2 separate regions of the Homo sapiens genome follow, and region 1 is linked to region 2. Evidence: fine-mapped expression QTL. A gene starts in region 2. The other region holds a variant in brackets. All regions are shown on one strand. Distances are from middle to middle. Region 1 has its middle 100 kb from the start of LMO1. Region 2 holds the start of TRIM66 (tripartite motif containing 66).

Region 1 (2,937 bases), 310 kb after region 2:
AGGGCCTGAGACAGAGACTCAGATCAGACAACTGCCTCTCTCTGGCATCCCCCATCCAGGGCTCTGAATTCTCACTCAGAAACACTCACTGACTGAGCCTTTGGTGTGCAGGTTGGCGACAGTGTTCCTTGGGCTGGCCCCTTAGGCTAAAGCCCTAGCATCTCAAGCCTCAAAGACTAGCCCCCAGCCCCAATCCTTAGCTGTGCAGAGGGCATGCACAGCAACCAAGGTCCTGGGGCCTTGCTGGAGCTCAGCCTTTCAGGAATTTGCAAGCAGTGAGAGTTCAGAATTCTACAAATAAAGAAACTGGGGTCAGCAGGAAGAGAGATCAGGCCTGCTAAGCTCCGGCATCAGAGCTCTCTGGAACCCCACTCAGGCCAGCTGCACCCTCCCACTGGCTGCAGAGGCGGAGGAGGAGAGGAGGTGGGAGAACTGAGGCTAGGTGCTGCCCCACCCTCCCTCCCCAGGCCCCACTGCCCCCACCTGCAAGGAAGCTTTCCACACAAATGACAAAGAAGCTTCATCAGGCAGGACTCCCTTAGCCTCCTCATTCTCTGGAAGCTCCCTCTGTCCCCACTCTTAGATCTGAAGATCCCATCAGCCCCTCCCACTGCCCCTGGGGCTTCCTGGAGCTGCCTGTGCCATCGTATAGCACACCTTGGCTGGATTTTCTGATTATACACACACACACACACACACACACACACACACACACAGAGTAAAAACCCAAACACCACAGAAAACTGTAAAAATAGAAGGTAAAAAAAAAGTGACTTCACTACCCAGAGATGATAAGTGTTCATATTATCCTGACTTCAAAACACCTGCCTCTTGAGCCTTCTTTCTCTCTCAATGAATATGATTTTATGTAAATGTCATATTATAAATACACTTTAGTAACCTGCAGTTTTGTCAAAACAGTGCATAAAGGACATGTCCCCATGGCAGTGAACCGAGATGTGTATCGCGACCCTTCCATGGCTGCCCAGTAGCTCTCTCTGTCCCCTAACCGGCATTCCATACAGATGGACGCAGACGCTGATGGCTTCTGCGGTGGTAACAGCTGTGTAATGGGGCTGCCTCAGCACACTGCTCGTTTGTGTGATCAGCTCCTTTCTATAAATTCCCAGATGTGGATTTGAAGGTGAAAGGGCATGCTTATTTCATGTCTTGATCTGACCACCCAATGTCTTAAGGTGGTTGGGGCCCTCCCCGGGGGAAATGCGGTAAGTTATTTTGGATCCTGAGATTAATGGGAAGTCACTTTGAAGCAGGGAAACAAGGCTAACCAGACTGGGGCTCCTTGAGGGCAGGGGCCAAGCTCCCATCCAAGGGGAGGCAAGAACCTGCCACTCGGGCAGGGCTTCAGAACTGGAGGGGTTAATTAGAGATGGATCCAGAAATCTATAAACACCCGGAAATGACTGGCATGTGCTAATTTCTTCTTTAGTATTCACAATGGCTTTCTATTAATTAAGAAGAGACAGAGCCCAGG[G/A]GAGAGGCGACAGGCCGGGCATTCTGGCGCTGTTGGGCTGGGCAGGCTGCCCATCCTGGGTCTGCTGAGGGTGAGGGGGTAGCCAGGGCCCAGTTCGACCTTGATGGCACAGGCCAAGGACAGCATCGCTCTCAGGGACCCTCCTTGGGCAAGAGGCAACATCGTGCATGGGACAGGCAGCAGCTTTCAGGTATCTTGTTTTTGAAACTCAGTGACTGCTGGCTCTTGAGGAAACTGGGGACACAGGAGGCCCGGGTGGGGGATTAGGGTCTCCCATTTCCCAGGGAGTCCTTTCCATAGCCATGCAGGGACAGGGTGGACAGAATCCTTCCCCCATAGCTGATGGAGGAAGTGAGACTATACTGAGGTTTTTGAAGTGGGTCCACTTCTTTGGGTGTGATGGGCAGGGAGGATCCCGCCCTCTGCTGCTTGGCTGCAGGAGTAGGATTAGAGGATGGAGACCACCCTCAGTTATATCCCTCAGTCCCGCTTCATCACATGCTCGCTGCCCTTCCCTCCTGCTCCACCACCCCATAGAAGCTAGGGCTGAGCCAGAGCTCTGGCCCAAGTCACTCTGGACAGATGGGAACACCTGGAGATAGCCTGGGTTTGGGCGTGTGCACTGTGTATACGTGTGTGTGTGTGATGAGTGTGTCCACTGTCTTGTCTGCATGTTCAATGTGCATATCATTGTGTGTATGTGAATGTATGAGTGTATGTTCAAATCCCGACTATACCATTTTCAAGCCTCATGTGCCTTTGGGCAAGCTACCAAACTCTCTAGAACTCATTTTCCTCATCTGTAAAATAGGAATGGTGATAGTGCCCACTTCGTAGGGTTGCTGTGAAGATTATGTGAGTGTGTGTAGCACACTCAGAACAATCATTGTGTTTGAAAAGCATCTTTAGTCTGGAACCCCTTTCCCTTCTCTACTACTCCATTTATTTGGTGAGTTGCTACTCATTCTTCAAGACCCAGCTGAAGTTCAGGCAGCATCAGGTCCATGTCACAGTGCAGGAAGATCTACCCTTAGAGTCCTGGGCTCAGGGGCAGAACCTCAGTACCTAAAGAAGCAGAGAGGAGCCTGTGGTCCCCATATCTCATAGTCAGAACATGAATGTACAATGATGTGAACACACGTCAGCATGGGCTTGTACACATCTGTACAATGATGCGTGTATATACACAATGTATACCCACGCACTCACAATCTGCATGGATACAGGAGGTACAAATACTTTGTCCTCAGCATTTGCAGACGTAGGACTCACACACATAACCTTGGCATGCATAGTGCGCACAGATATAAGCCCTCCATTGTCTACAAACATGATGTAGAAGCAGAACTTATACACACACGCTTTGTACACATTTAGTACTTTGTTCACACATATATACAAAACGTATACTTTCTACACATAAACTGTTACATAAACTCTTT
Region 2 (2,838 bases):
CTACCTCCCAAGCTGTGTCAATAAAAGCAGTCCAAGGACACTTACTATTTGTCGAAGTTGATCCGGTGGTGATGCAGACCACCAGCATTACCGCGGCCGCCGGGGTGCTTCCGGTGCTTGCCTGCAGGAATACAAAGCTACGTGGGGCCGGTGTGATGGCTCATGCCTGTAATCCCAGCATTTTAGGAGGACGAGGGGGGGTAGATCACCTGAGGTCAGGAGTTCGAGACCAGCCTGGCCAACACGGAGAAACCCCCGACTCTACTAAAAATAGAAAAAGAATTAGCCGGGCGTCGTGGCGCACACCTGTAATATCAGCTACTCGGGAGGCTGAGGCAGGAGAATCGCTTGAGCCCGGCAGGCAGGGGTTGCAGTGAGCCGAGATTTCGCCACTGCACTCCAGCCTGGGCGACAGTGATCAGTCTCACACACACACAAAAAAGCTACATGCACCACACAGCCTTCTCATGCATCTCAATACTTCCTCGCACAAAAGCAGAGTGTTTCCCAGACTTCTGTGTCCCGCTTACGCTGTTCCCACCCTACCGATGCCGGTTTTCAGCAATGCGATTACTTTAGGATTCCGGGTGAAACATCTTTTCAGGTTCCACATCACAGCATTCCCACAGTACTCCATGTCTTCAACTAACCCAATACCGTGCCTGCTCAATTCCTATTACCCCACTGATGTGAAATTCCTTAGAACTGGAATACTAGAGGATCGTCAGAAAAAAATCAACAGCTGTGCAACTTGACCACAAAAAGGTCTTATTCTAACCCACTTATAGGCTACCGATCTCCAGACTAGCTAAGCACCCGAAGAGAGCCCAAGGCCCACCCCGAGGGGAAGCCGGCACTTACCTATGCGGCCGTGGCCGTGGCTCACGTGGCCCCTAAGTTTCCGGGTCTTCCTCAGTCTGGATGGCTGTGTGGAAAAAGCTTGGTGGTAAGGCCTAAGGAATTAGGGGCAGGGGGCGATGCCCGCCAGCCGAGATGGTCCTGTAAGCCTGTGGGTCAAAGACCTAACTTCTGGAGCGTTTGGGAAAGCTGAGGGTACCGATCCGCTCAGGGCCGTGAGGTCTCACCACGGTAGCGCAGGGGCCCGCGTGTCCTAGAGATCCGAACCGCGGGCCTAACACACGGCTCCGGGAGCCCCGCCCCGGGCCCGCGCCGGCCACCCTGCCCCGCAGGCGGCCATGCGCAGCCTGGAAGCCCCGACCATGGTAGGGAGTGGATGACTAGGGGCAATGGGAATACAGCTTAGGGGTCTCCGCCGGCAAGGAAGAGGAGGCAAGAAACGAAACACCTACCATGTTGGCAGCCCAGACGAAAAAGGAAGGCCTTCGCCAAGTCTCGCGAGGTATCGGCCACGGGGGCGGGGCAAAACGCCTCACTTCCGGTCACAGAGGCCGGGCTTCGGGCGGGGCCTCCTGGTCTCGCGGGATTGCGCGCCTGCTAGTCGCTTCCTCTTTCTGAGGGTGGTGATCCCCCATCACGGAGTGTCCTGGTGGCGGTGTACGGTTTCGGTGAGGCTCGTTGTGCTAGGCTCGGAGGGCGAGAACTGTTGAAGAATCGGGGCTAGGTGTGCTGTACTGCACGCCGCCCGTGCTTGCTTGAGCCAGGCCCTTTTCTGGCGCCTTGGTCAGGGAACCGCCTAAGCCGACCCTAAGGGCCTCGTTGTCTGAGCTCCTCACCAAATGCGCCAGCCCTGAGCCGCCCCGCGCACCTCCACAGTTCTTAGTGGTCTGCCCGGGGCTGGTGATAGTGGCTACTGGTTTGTCTCCCGGCCGCAGTGCGGAACCGCGAGGCCCTCTTTAATCCTCAGTGTGCCCACCTGGTGTCTCGCTCGGTTTCCTGAAGCTCGGGCGGCTCCCGAAATGCCTTCTCCCGCTCTCACACTTCTGAGTGGGCACTGCAGCTTCCTTTCTCTTTTGCCCTTTTGCTATCATTTGGTTGTCCTCTCAAGTTTGAGCAACTTAAATTGCTTCAGGGACTTAGATGCCTGGTTGCTTTATGGTCCTTTTAATGCAGATGTTGTAAATACTTTTTCTAAATGCCACATTTAGGCCAGGCGCGGTGGCTCACACCTGTAGTCCCAACACTTTGGGAGGTCGAGGCGGGAGGATTTCTTGAGGCGAGTAGTTCAACACCAGCCTGGGCAACATAGTGAGACCCTCGTCTCCACATACAAAAGTAAATAAGTAAAAATAAATGCTATTTTTGAATTTTCTCCAGAATCTACATAACACGCCTGTGACCCTTTCCTGGACACAATGCAGACAGTTGCTCGCTTCCCCACCTGTACCACCACACAATCTAGTATAACCCTTATGTAATTTATTGACCTACGTTTGTCTTCCCTACTAGACCTAATTCCTTATGTGGTCAAGGACTGTTTTTTTTAATCCACACTCAACTAGTGATTGTTGAGTGAATAAATGAACTTACCCTCACCTCCCTGTCTTCGCTAATAGCAGCATGTCTTCGCTCTTAAGTCGGTTCCTTCAACCAGTGTTCAAGATCCCATCCCCTCGCTAGTCTATTAATAGATCCCATGGGAAAAATGAAATAAATTTTTAAAATCCCATCCCCTCAGTTATTCTCTGTGTGTATGTGTGAGCGTGTATTTATTTATTTTTCTTTGTCTTGCCCCCTTCAGCTAAAATATATTTTAGCTAAAATATCCAAAATTCTGGCCGGGCGTGGTGGCTTACTTCTGTAATCCCAGCACTTTGGAAGGCCGAGGCGGGCGGATCACGAGGTCAGGAGATCGAGACCATCCTGGCTAACACGGTGAAACCCCGTCTCTACTAAAAATACAAAAAATTAGATGGGCGT

Evidence for each region. PIP is the estimated chance that this variant, and not a neighbour inherited with it, causes the effect.
Region 1: its variant is fine-mapped to the expression of TRIM66 in transverse colon (GTEx, PIP 0.93).

The regions. Positions count from the first base shown.
Region 1 is chr11:8,367,075-8,370,011 of GRCh38, reverse strand. It overlaps a transcript of STK33 not described here. Among named protein-coding and RNA genes, the nearest start is that of LMO1, 100 kb to the right of the region's middle. The variant G/A (reference allele first, on the strand shown) is at 1,496.
Region 2 is chr11:8,681,289-8,684,126 of GRCh38, reverse strand. TRIM66 (tripartite motif containing 66) reads left to right here and starts at 1,462. Exons shown (of 25, transcript NM_001388022.1): 1 at 1,462-1,526. RPL27A (ribosomal protein L27a) reads right to left here and starts at 1,335. Exons shown (of 5, transcript NM_000990.5): 1 at 1,311-1,335; 2 at 862-925; 3 at 46-121. The coding sequence starts at 1,313. RefSeq lists enhancers at 414-1,056, 1,383-1,572, 1,773-1,842, 706-1,905 and a silencer at 1,063-1,262.